Regions from separate parts of the Homo sapiens genome. Here all the other regions are reported to be linked to region 2. Evidence: microRNA targets listed by miRTarBase, many of them from high-throughput screens and not tested one by one. Region 2 holds a microRNA gene; each other region holds the end of a gene's coding sequence.
What was found. Region 2 holds the annotated microRNA hsa-miR-4267 (UCCAGCUCGGUGGCAC, at 1,963-1,978, opposite strand). A microRNA usually pairs through its seed, bases 2 to 8, with sites in the 3' UTR of a target mRNA and lowers its output. Matches are read on the target gene's strand: a 7mer-m8 pairs with bases 2 to 8, a 7mer-A1 pairs with bases 2 to 7 and ends in A, and an 8mer does both.

Region 1: the mRNA of GPRIN2 is a reported target of hsa-miR-4267. Seed matches in the 3' UTR shown: 7mer-m8 at 500-506, 7mer-m8 at 3,689-3,695 and 7mer-A1 at 3,894-3,900.
Region 3: miRTarBase lists XKR7 as a target of hsa-miR-4267. Seed matches in the 3' UTR shown: 7mer-A1 at 1,867-1,873 and 7mer-m8 at 2,154-2,160.

The regions. Positions count from the first base shown.
Region 1 is chr10:46,545,654-46,549,842 of GRCh38, reverse strand. GPRIN2 (G protein regulated inducer of neurite outgrowth 2) reads left to right here. Exons shown (of 3, transcript NM_001385282.1): 3 at 1-4,189. The coding sequence ends at 483. Among named protein-coding and RNA genes, the nearest start is that of GPRIN2, 8.9 kb to the left of the region's middle.
Region 2 is chr2:110,068,055-110,072,243 of GRCh38, forward strand. It overlaps MIR4267 (microRNA 4267), which reads right to left and starts at 1,988; the gene lies at 1,907-1,988.
Region 3 is chr20:31,996,858-32,001,046 of GRCh38, forward strand. XKR7 (XK related 7) reads left to right here. Exons shown (of 3, transcript NM_001011718.2): 3 at 1-4,189. The coding sequence ends at 600. Among named protein-coding and RNA genes, the nearest start is that of CCM2L, 11 kb to the right of the region's middle.

The sequences.
Region 1 (4,189 bases), not on the chromosome of region 2:
CCCGCTGGGTTAGTCCCAGAGCCTGGCTCTAGGACCAAAGATGTGTGGACCATGACCTCAGCCAATGACTTGGCCCCTGCAGAGGCATCCCCGCTGTCAGCCCAGGATGCTGGTGTGCAGGCGGCCCCAGTGGCGGCCTGCAAGGCTGTGGCCACCAGTCCGTCCCTGGAAGCGCCTGCAGCCCTGCATGTGTTCCCAGAGGTAACTCTGGGGTCCAGCCTGGAGGAGGTGCCGTCCCCTGTGCGGGATGTGCGATGGGATGCTGAGGGCATGACATGGGAGGTGTACGGAGCTGCGGTGGACCTGGAGGTGCTCGGTGTGGCCATCCAGAAGCACCTGGAGATGCAGTTTGAGCAGCTGCAGCGGGCGCCCGCCAGCGAGGACAGCCTGTCTGTGGAGGGCCGGAGGGGGCCACTGCGGGCTGTCATGCAGTCCCTGCGGCGCCCCAGCTGCTGCGGCTGCTCCGGCGCGGCCCCCGAGTGAGGAGCTGTGGCCCTTGGAGCTGGCCTGGGCCCACTGACTTAGTCCTAGACCTGGGCCAGGGACGGTGGGGGCTCCGTGCCCCCTGGACCCACCGGCAGCTGGGCACATCTCTCACCTGAATATTGGCTGCCTCCAGACCACAGGACTGCAGCCTGGGGCTTCCGGCCCTACACAGCTGGGCTGTTTTCTTAAGGGCTTGATTTCCAAGGGCCACATCTCTGCACCTTCCGGGCTCTGAACTTTGAGACAGGGCTTTAGCACTGTGCAGAGGGGAGATCCTGAGTTTTCTGTAAAAAATGACCTTTTGTTCACTCCACCCTCAGAACTCTGCCATGTTGCCTCGTCAGACTCTTGGTGGCTTTATTTGAAATCAGTGCTGAGAAATAGTGAATTCTCGACATGAAATGTGAGGCCCCAGTGACAGGGACTGCCCAGGTCTTTAGGGAAGGGGACTGATGTTATCAGAGGCCTCCTGTGTGCCACATACTGTGCTTGTCCTGTCTTCACCTCTTCATCCTGGCAAGCCTTCATTTGGCAAGGCTGTAGCCGATGTGCCCCACGCTGGACAGCTTGAAGAGGTGGGACTGAGATCCAAAGCCAGGGCCAGCTGAGCCGTGGGTGTTGCCCTGTAGCATGTGCCCGGTCCAGTCAGTGCAGTCATGTATGAGGAGAATTTACTGAGCTCATACTCTGTGCTGGGTTCTGTGGATTCTGTGGTGAATGAGACAGAGGCTGCCCCTGCCCTGGCTGAGCTCATGGTGTGGGTTGGGGATGGCAGGGGAGGATGCTGACCATTACGGAGGGCTGCCAGGCTTCCAGGGTCATTGTGTCAGAGGCTGGCCTGAGGAAGGGGAGAATGGGTGGCCACCTGCCCTAATCTCAGTTACAAAGCCTAAAATTGCACTATTTTCACCTCATTCTGTCGGCTGAAGGATTTCTCCCCAGCTGGTGCAGTTTGTGGAAGGAGGGAGGGCAGGAATGGAGGGGGACAGGGCAGGAGTTTGCCCTGGCCCTGGGGTAGGGGCTGTGAGGCTGTGGGGGCTCGCTTGCCCACATGACCTGACCTAGGCTAGGCAGTGGGGGCCAGGGGCCTTGGAGAGACAGAAACATGGGCTTTGGCACAGTCTGACTTCATTGCCCAAAGATTTCTCGAGGCCTGTGAAGAATGGGAGTGGGCTTGTGTTCTTGTCCTGGGTCTTTGTCTTGAAGATCCTAAGATCCCGTGACACAGCCCCCCAATCCACCCGTGTGAGGGACCAGAGGGCTAGTGTGGGGTCATGGCCCACGACCTGGCCTGTTTCTGGAGCCTCTTCTGCACCTAGGAGCCCAGGACCCCCACAGTGGTGGCTTACTTTTCCCCATCCTCAAGGACCTGGTACTCATTGAGGTGGAAATGACTCATGCAACAGTTGGTGAATTTGTAAAGCAGGAGTGGCATTTCAACAGGCCACAAGGACAAAGTGACAAAGGCGTGCGTCAGGTCAGATGCCTCCTGAAGCCCAACGATGGACCATTCTCACCCGTAAACATGCCTTTCCCATATGCATAGGTGCACCCCTTGGGATTCTGGGGCTGTCAGTCCCTTTGTGTATGGTGCCAGGGCAGGCAGCTCACGTTCTGGGGAGTGACACATGGGTATATGCCATCTTCATGCCTGGCTCCCCATGGAGTCTCCAGGAACCCCAGCCTGTTAGGGCCACATGAGAGAGAACAAATGGCTGTGGGTGCATGGGGAGGGACCTTTCACACAGGGCCATAGCTAAGTAGGGTCTTGAGGATGCAGGGGTTAGACAGGTGGGTGGAGAGAGGGCAGGACCTGCCTGGCAGATGGAACAGCCTGGTCAGATACTTGGATGTGCCTGTCCTGCCTGGGCCATAATGAGTTTCTGCAGTGGCGGCTCATTTGGAGCGTTTGTTGGGTTGGGAGGTGACCAGGGGTCCCCATTGTGAAGATCCTGATGTAAATGAGGAAAGGAACTTTAAGGGAACTGTGGAAGGGGTTCTGAGGTGGGACCAGATTTCAGTTTAGAAATATCCATTTGGCTTCCAGTGGAGATGTGCCAGGTGACACCAAGGAGGGGCCTGTTTAGGGGCAATGGAGTGGGCAGCTGGGGGCTGGGTTCATACACGTGCACACACACGCATACACAGGCACACATGTGTGCAATGGATTTGGGGAGGAGGCATTTCAGGATGCTGAGGTTTCCAGTTTGAGCAAGAGGAGGGTGAGGCCACTACCTGGGTCAAGGTGAATGGCATGTTCAGCAGGTGCAGAAAGGGCCACCTGCCACAGGGTTTGGCTGGGACCAGTGAAACCTACTTCATGAAGAGACTTTCTTCTGTGTCACGTGCAGATTCTTATGCATTCACGCTGGCTGGGTGCCACTCTGTGCTACCTCCATGCTGCCCTGGCTTGCCAGGATGGCAGGCCGGGCTGGGCTCAGCCAAGCTCCCACTCACCTCATCGTCACTGAGATGAGTATTTGCAGAGCGGTGCTGAAATCCAACACCTGTGTCTTGGCTGGGGCCCCAGATGATTCTCCTGGCTAAACCACGATCCTTGTCTCCCTAGCCCAGTTGCACAGCTGCTGCTGACAGGTCTACCTGAAGTGACTGCAGCCTCATTTCTGATTGGAACTGGAGACCCCTCCCAACCCCCTTTGCTGTGCCCTCTCCTGGAACAGCCCTGATGCCTGCAGTGGTTTAGGGCCCCAGAGCATGGCCAGCGGTTTAGTTTACAGATCTCCTCCCCTTGGACTCTAGATTTCTGGCCAGACTTTCTGGGTCCCTTTCAGGCCCTGCTCTGGGAGGTGTTGGAGTTCACTGTTGATGTGTTTGTTTGGCTTTGAATTCAAAACAGATACAAATTTGGAGGTGAGAGCTTTGCCAGACCCCAGCAGGGATGGGGCATCGGTCCTGACTGGTCTTGTTTATTTTGTCCTGGTAAATTCTGTTCTTTGGAGCATAAACCCTGGAGTCCTAGAGCCCCTTGCCTCAGCAGGAATCCCCCCTCTGTCTGCTCCAGGGGCTCCCTGCTTCTGCCCACCTGCTCTCCTTCCATGGCATTCAGGACCCCCGACAGCTGAAGCCTCTCTTCATATAGCTTGTCCCCTCTGGGCCTGCCTGTCTTGTGTCCAGGACACAAGACACGCATCCCTTGTCTGGCCCCAGGCTGCCATCACTGTCACAAGAAACTCATAGAGTAGAGCTGGTCTGAGGTCACAGTGCTGGTGGTGGTGGAAAAGCAGGGATGGCCTGTTCCACTGTGATCTTACCTCCTGTGTCACCTGGATTGGGTCTCTGTCCCCTTAGACATGCTAGATCCTAACTTTACAAGGGCTGAAGGGGTCTTCTACACGCAGGTCCCAACACTTTGGGCTGGGGTTGGCCACCGTAGCTTAGTGGGCTAAAGCTGGAGTTTGAATCTGGATATATAGGATCCACACCTATAGCCATGTGATCTTGGGCAAGTTACAAGCCTTGATCATCTTCCTCATCTGTAAGATGGGGATGACAATGGTGCCTCCTTCACATGCTTGGTGTGGAGATTAAATAGAATAACCCAAGTAGTGCCTGGCACTGAGTTAGTGCTCAGCACACAGGCTGGTAGTGTTGGGCACCCCTCTCATAGCCACATTCAGGGGCCACCTCTTACCCTGCCAGCTTGGCTGTGATCACAGCCCACATCCCACTTCCTTAAAAGTCC
Region 2 (4,189 bases):
GTAGTAAAATATAAGAAGGTTCTACTGTGCCAGGCTCTTGGTCCACATTTCCTTATTTAATTCTCACAACAGAAGGCAAAAAGGTGAGTGAATGGCCCAGGACAAGTCTCTGACTCCTAACCAGCTGGCTCTCAAGAGATACTTGCCAAAGGAAGAAATGGCCTATGTATACCATTCACACTTTAGTATGAATTTATTCCTACAGTATTATTTCCACTCTGCATCTGAAATGAAAGACAAGTGTTTCATGTAAGCTGCACCAGTAAGAGATGCCTAAGAGGCTGGCTGGTTTTTGCTGTGCAAGTGGTTCGACGTGGGGCTGCAGAATACTCTGGCCTAATTCAGAGCTGAGAACACAGACACCGTGGGCCCAGGAGTCCACCTGCCTTGAGTGTTGTGACTGCACTTGGGCAGGAGTGGAGCCAAAAAATAAAAACAGAAGCAGCCTTGGCACATAGTAGAACCTTCTTATATTTTATTTACTTCCCAACCTTTTACATGTCATGAAATGCATAGAATACAATACAATTTTTTTTTTTTTTTTTTTTTTTTTTTTTTTTTTTTTGGCAGAGAGTGGTTCCCCAAGGTGGATGCTATTCGGGGAAATCTTGCTGATCTTGCCCTCTTCCCAAATGCATGGGAAATATTACCCATTTGTCACACAAGCTGTCTGAGGACGCAGTAGCCTGTGAGGTCAGGGGAAGAGCCCTGGCTCCTCTGAACCTTCCTCTTGGTAGCACAGGCCATGGCACTTCGGCATGTCAGATCTAAGCCAGAATGCAACCTCCTCAGTCACCCACCCTGTGAGCTGTGGGCTGGCAGCCTGACCTCTCTGAGCCCAGGCGGGTGAGGAACCCTGCCCAGGTCCGTGGGGGGGTGGAAGGACCAGATGTCACGTGCCTGGCACATCCTGAGTCCCACTTCATGTCCTTTCCCTCACCCTCCGTGTTCCCTCAGCTGAGCTGGGCCCAAATCTTCATCCCAGGGAAATGGGACCCAGTGACCAACTGGGCTGTGCTACTGCAGGCACCTTTGAAATGAGCCCAGGGGAAGCAGTAAGAAAGCAGCAGGCTATGCTTGGAGAAGCGCCCGTCCTGTCCACCATCGCTCCACCTTTCTCCATCACTCCTTACCTGACCTACCCCAACACAGGTGGCCAGAGGCAGGAGGGCTCCCCAACAGCTCCTACAGGTGTTCCCTGCAGCTTCCAGCCAATTCTCACAGAGCGACAGCTGTTCTTCTGGCCTTTGCTTGGGGTCTGAGCCCAAGCACATGTATCCACATGTGCGAGTTCAGGCTGAGCTCCCACGGTGGGCAGCACCTTTTGTGTGTGTGCCTGTGCATGTGTGCACACATATGTGTGAACTGTGCAGGCTGTAATTTCCAAAACCAAATTTGGCTTTTTTTGATTTGTAAGTTATTTACATCAACGAATTTTAAAGAAGCATAAAATGAAATTAAGTTAAAGTTTTAGTGGATCACCTCTGAAAAAGAAAAACTTTCATTCTGTGAAATTGGATTTCTAGAAAATTCCAGGATTCCCCACAGTTAAAGGCACAAGGCAGGGACAAATTCTGGCCATGTCACATGCAGGGGGCATGGGTAGTAAGAGTGGGAAATGGGGTTCGGGGCTCAGTTCCCCAGCACCTTGCTCTTCCTTTTTCTGACTCTCCTGGTTTGTCTTTTCTGGTGTCTGTGAGCCCCTCAAGGGCAGAGGCCATTTCTCATTCATCCTAGCATCCAGTACCCAGGGCCCAGCCTGTCATGAGGAGGTGCCCAGCAATCTGAGCGTATTTAAGACTGGGTCCTGATTCTGTCTTTTGTCCCCTCCTTGGGTTCCCAAACTCTCTGTATTCTGCTCCTTCACATTTAAATTGACCCCCAAACAGGATCTCCCAGCCTCCTTGGAGATGTGGGCTCCATGCAGGGATGACAGAGGCTGGGGTCTGGAGCCTTCCCCCAGTGCCACCGAGCTGGAGCCTGCTGAGTTTGCAAGTCATCACGGAGAATCCTCGGCTCCTTCGGAGATACCACCCCTGGGCCTACTCTGGGTTCTGAGATGGCAGCCCTAGTGCCAACCTCATCCAGAAGTCATCACTCCCTGGGGGACTGTGAGGGTGTCATCGAATATCTGCCAATCTGCTGACAAGTAGACATCCCAATGGCCATGGAGAAAACATCCGTGCAAGGGCTTTGATCCTCCGAGGCTCCATGAGAACACTGCTATTATAATAGTTACTAAGCCTAATAAAAAGTATAATGATAGAATATATATCACGATGTTGACCCAAAATGGCAATGTTTAGTTCTTAGGGAATTCAAAGTACACAAAGTCCTTGAGAAGGACACAGCTCTCAAAGAGACTCAGGTCACCTCCCTGCAGTCGTCACCCTCCCCGGTAGCCAGTGCAGGCACAAGGATCTGCCACTCCCTGCTTAAACCCTACCCCCTTCCAGAGCTCCCCATTCCCTGTGGGAAGTCACAGGAACACCCAATCCTTGTGAGCCAGACCTTGGCCCAGACTCTCGCCAGTCACCAGCCAGCTGGCTGCTGCTGTTCCGGTGCCCTTCCTCATGCTGTTCCCAGCGGACTCTCCCCACAGGCTGCCCTTCATCCTCCAGAGCTCCACCAGGGTGATCGTAGACCAGAAGGGTCCAGGTGCTTGACCAGCAATCATTCTAGTAACTTTTGGGAGGTCACACTTTCTAGGAGGCCTCTAGTAAGTCCCTCCCCTCCACTTCCAGCTGGGGCCGGTGACCCCTCACCCTAAGACGTGAGGCCTCTAGATCTGTCTTATTCTGCTCCCAGCCTTCCAGGTTCTGGAGAGCAGGAGGCCCTGGCCCAGGAACAGGCACCCAGCAGATGCTCAGCAGCCATGTGTGCAACAGAACTAAATCTTCCAGCTTTGGCTGAAAGCAAACATCATGGCTGTCTCAGCAGGCACGTGCTCCCAGGGTTGTGTCCTTCCTGGAAGATCTCAGCTTCTCCCACATCTGTGTCTCCTGAATCCACACCAAAGGAGCCTCGTTCAGAAGGGACCCCAGGACAGGGCACGGACACCTGTAATCCCAGCACTTTGAGTGGCCAAGGCAGGCAGATGGTTGAGCCCAGGAGTTTGAGACTAGCCTGGGCAACATGGCCAAATCTGTCTCCACAAAAAACGAAAAATTAGCAAGGTGGGTGGTGCACACCTGTAGTCCCAACTACTTGGGAGGCTGAGGTGGGAGGATCGCTTGAGCCTCACAGGCCAAGGCTGCAGTGAGCTATGATCTAGCCACTGCACACCAGCCGCTGCAACAGAGTGAGACCCTGTCTGAAAAAATAAATAAATAAAAAATAAAAGGAAGGAGCCCTGGGTTTGATTCGGGCCTCACGATGTGCCCTCTCACTGCACGAAAGTGGCCCAGGGGCACACTCTGCCCCTCTCTAGGAGGTGGTAGTGACCTGGGAGGGCCTTGGAGCGGATCTTTGTGTCCCTCAGTACATGGAGAAGTAAACTGAGGCACAGAGAGACGGGCATGTGTCCCAGATGGTGGGAGCCAGTGCTCGCTGGGGCAGCCCCTCCTTGGACCCAGCGGCAGAATTTCAGCAGCAGGTGGGGCCAAATAATCGGGTCCAGGGTGAGAGAAACACCTGTGTAAATTTGTCTTATAGGGCCCTGGAGAGGAAGGGTAGGAGCTGGGGCAGGTCAAGGTGCCCCTGGAAGCTTCTAGAGACCTGGATACACACCAGACAGCAGCGGCTGATGAAGGAAACAGGTGGGCTTTTAACAAAGTGTGGACAGTCACGATTCTTTCCCTGTAGCCCTGGGACCCCAATGTCCTTAGCCACGGTCCCTCAGCTGCCCCGGGAGCCGCCAGCATGAGCCGGTGTCCCGTTTTAGCGCAGGCGTGCCCTGGGACACTGCGGGCGCCCAGTGACCCGACTGAGCAAAAAGGGGCTTCAAGTGGAAGCCCCTCTTCCAGGCACCTCCGTGTCACTCCTGCGCCTGCATAGGGTGCCTTCCCGGTAAGATCCTGAGAGTTTGCACGGGCCGGTCCGGGCTCCCGGCTCTGCCCACCTGATGTCACTCGAGGACTGCCCCTCCCGGCCTTCGCGCGGAGCGCGGGCGCCACCCAGTGGTGCATTCGAGTAACCGAACCCAGCTCTCAGCCAGATCCCCGCCTCCAGCGGGCTCCCCAGTTATTTT
Region 3 (4,189 bases), not on the chromosome of region 2:
CGCCGCCGCATGACCCTCTACCACTGCATCGTCCTGCTGGAGAACGCCGCGCTCACCGGCTTCTGGTACTCCAGCCGCAACTTCTCAACCGACTTCTACTCGCTCATCATGGTCTGCGTAGTGGCCTCCAGCTTTGCGCTGGGCATATTCTTCATGTGTGTCTACTACTGTCTCCTGCACCCCAATGGGCCCATGCTGGGTCCCCAGGCACCTGGTTGCATCTTCCGTAAGGCCTCAGAGCCCTGTGGCCCACCCGCTGACGCCATCACGAGTCCCCCCAGGTCCCTGCCAAGGACTACAGGTGCTGAGCGGGATGGGGCCTCGGCGGGAGAGCGTGCAGGGACCCCCACCCCACCTGTCTTCCAGGTGCGGCCTGGCTTGCCTCCCACACCAGTGGCCCGCACCTTGCGGACAGAGGGGCCTGTCATCCGGATTGACTTGCCTCGCAAGAAGTACCCGGCCTGGGATGCTCATTTTATTGACCGCCGGCTCCGGAAGACCATCCTGGCACTGGAGTACTCCTCACCTGCCACGCCCCGGTTGCAGTACCGGAGTGTGGGGACTTCCCAGGAGCTGCTGGAGTATGAGACCACAGTGTAGGCTACAGTGTCCCAGCACAAAAGGGACAGGCTTGGCTGATCCCACATCCGCCGCAGTGTTGTGCCCCGAATTTCAGGGCCACCAGGCTAAGGGGGAGTGGATCTGTTGGTCCAAGGGTAGAGTGGCCCCACTCTTGGGTTCTTTCAGGGGAGGGGGCAGCCTTGCGGAGGCCCCAGCCCTGGGCCCCGTTTTCAGCCTTGTGGCCCATTCCCTAAATTCCCCTGACCCAGGGCCTGGGGAATCATCTGGTGCTACACTTTTCGAGCTGCCCTGCTTTCATGGGGCCTCCACACCTCTCCCCTGCCTGGCGTTGCCCATGTGTTGCCCCTGCTGGACTTGCCAGAGAAAGGGCACTGTCTGGGGTCCATGACCTAGACCCTGTGCTCCTCAGGGGTTGTGGAGAGTGGGCTGCCTCTATGGTGGGAAAAGATCTCTGAGAAGGATGGAGGTGGCCGTGGAAGGGATGGGGTGAGGTTGGAGCATTGTGTGGACAGGGATGGCGTGGCTCCTGTAGCATCTGAGGCCTGGAGCCAGGGCAAGAGGGAGCTGAAGAAGGGAGTTGGGGTGGGGCAGGGTGTTGGGGTGGGGGGCTGGCAGTGCTGGAGATGGATAGGAGAAAGAACTGGGGGGGGGGTCTAGGCTGGCAGAAGCATGGAGGGGTGGAAGACTTGGGGGAGGGGAACCTGCAATCCAGAGCATAGCGAACAAGAATGAACTCCTTAGGAGACGTCTCTTGTTGTGTTGTGGGCTCTGTGAAGGATGAAGTTCCACACACCTCAGGTGAAATGTTTGAAGGAGCCATTTTTTGTTCTAGATGTGCACCTGGAACGTGGCTTCTAGATACAGGTCTTCAACACAGCAGATAAGATGTCTGGAAAGATCTCTGGGCTCAAGTGCAGGTGAGGTTTTAGCACAGTTATCAGAGGAACTGATCCAGAAGCAGGCTTAGTTCTAGATTGAGTTCTAGAGTGCTAGGCTGATAAAATGTCCCAGGGAGCCACTCTGATCTGTGTATTCTGTTGTGAGGAGGAGGACACTGGAGGCCTGCTGCTCTGCTGTGGGGGATTCTAGCACCTGTCACAGTGGTGGGGGAGAAGAGGTTCTAGAGCCCAGCGTGAATGGAATTTTCTAGGAATGGGTGCTCTCATTCTAGACTTCTGGGGCTCATGGGAGCTCTAGGCCCCTGTTACCTTGGTCCATAGCCATCTTTCTAAAAGGAAATTGTCCTCAGAACCCCTGAGACATTTCAGCTGCCAACTGGTTCCCAGCTGGAAAAAAAAATAGCTCTGGGGACGTGACATGAATCCTGGCTCTCAGCCACTCTGCAAATGGGGCTCCCTGGAGCGGCATCTGGGAAACTGACTTGTTTTGCCTTAGATCTGATGACTCCCCAGGACCTGTGGTCTATTCCCATGGCCTGAACATCCTGGAGTGCCCAGGGGACTCACCCAGGGCCCCTCCTCCCACCTAGGACAGCCAGTGCTGGATTGAGGGGGCGTATGGGAGAGGGGAAGTAGGCAGTTCCATGGGGTGAGGAGACAGAGCCTCTAGCAGAGCTGGGAACCCAACCCACCCCCCACCCCCCCACACACACACTCCCACAGCAACTTAGGTGTGATTGGTGGGAGAGGACAGCAGCGGATGTTAAGGACAGATGCCAACCTGATCCTGGAGTGAGGTGGGCCATGAGAATCCTAGACTATGCAAATTAGAGGGATGCTTAGCCCTCCCTGGTTCAGCCTCTCTTGGGTTACAGATGGGAAACTGAGGCCCAGAGTGGCAGCCACTCTCTCAAGGTCCCAGACTCTGGGCTGCCCATCAAAAGGTGATGGGTAATGATGAATTGCTGGGGATGCAGGGTAACCCCAAAGGCAGGGAGGGCCAGACTGCCCACATACACACAAGCACAAGCACAACCATGATACGGGTCACCCTCCCCACCAGCACACAGGCCGAGATGGTGTACGCATCATCCCTCCTGCCAACACAGCAAGAGTGCTTTTCCTTCTTTCTGCTGCTAAGCACCCTCAGGAACGAGGCCTCGAGGGTGACGGGAGGTGGGAGAAGCCCAAGGCTGACCCAGGCCCACTCTGTTGGGTTCATCCATCCTCCAAATCCATCTTTGGAGGCTGAATTCACACACAAAGCCGTTGTGAGATGGGAGCTCTGAAGATGCGGACCCAGACCCAGAAACAGACTGTTTCTCCAGGGCCAACTTTGTGCCAGGAATTTTCACCCCATGTCGTTTCACTTACACTCTCCTCTGGTCACGACGTCCCTGCAAGAGAGGTATTATCAACCCATCTTACAGACGAGGAAACTGAGGCCCAGAGATGTAGCATGAGGGTCACCCTTGGCAAGTTATTCTCCTCCCCAGTATCCCAGAATGGCCCATCTGGCTGCTGCCTTCTAGAGGAAAAGTCCTAGCTGGGGTCCTTTACACTCCAGGAGACTCCCAAGGGGCAGGGATGTGCTGGCAGGGCTTGGCATGGTCTGAGGCTCGCAGGGAAGCCATGGCTACATTTTTGGATTTTACTCCACCCCCACTCCCCACCTCTTCTCAACCCCACACACCCTTCCCTCAGGGCTTCTGCCTGCAGGGACATCTGGGCACAGGAATGGCCACAGTCAAAGGGCCCAGGGAGAGGGCTGCAGGCACCTCCTCCTGCTTCTCACCCTCAGAAGAGTCTCAGCCCTTAAAGGACTCTCCACCCAGGAGCTCGGGACCAGGCCTGAGGCCCCCTGCTCCACTGGCTTGTCCCTTCATTTCACTGGGATAGAGGAGTCAGATGAGGGAGGGGTCCATCCCCTTGGAGCTGTTTTGTTTTTCTTTCTGTGACACAATCTACCTCAGCCAGTCTCTCCCCTAGCAGAACTGACCCCCCTGGTCCTCTGCCTCCTGTCCCCTGACCCCCACCCCAGTCTGGATGTTCAGTCCTTCCCTGTCCTTCCCACCCTGCCAGGGTCCTTGCAGCCCAGAGGGTCCCTGAGGGTTCCTTAAGCCACCTGCCCTCCACATCCATTAGACAGGAGAAAGTGAGACCCAGAGAGGACCAAGGACTCACCAAAGGCCACACAGGAAGTCAGTGGCAGTTAGGATTTCCCTGGGGATGAGAGGTAGTTGGGTGTGTCTTAATTTTGCCAGGAACAGAAGAGAACAGGATGCTTTGGGTACCAAATATGGCAGGCCCTGCCCTCAGTTACCTCTAACCCCAGGAGACCAGTGTCCCCATCTCCAGGGCAGACTTCTGTCTACCTGTTTTCTTAGAACTGACCCCCACGCTGTTGACTGTGTTCCCCAAACCTCTGCAGGCACCACACACACCCACATCACGGCGCCTCCTGGCACTGATGTGCCATGTGCCTTGTAACTGTCACCCCAGCTGAACAGCACAGACCTCCCCACTCCCCCACACAGGGCTCCCCAATGAGGGAGCCTTGCTTGATCCCCTCCTGTCATCTGCCTCATTCTTGTGTCTCCCCCAAATCTGCCTTACCCCCAGCCAGCTCCCTGCTACACCTGTGTCCCACAGAGGCATGTCACCCATGAGAGTCGGGAAAGACAGAGGGCAGGGAAGGTGAGGCCTGG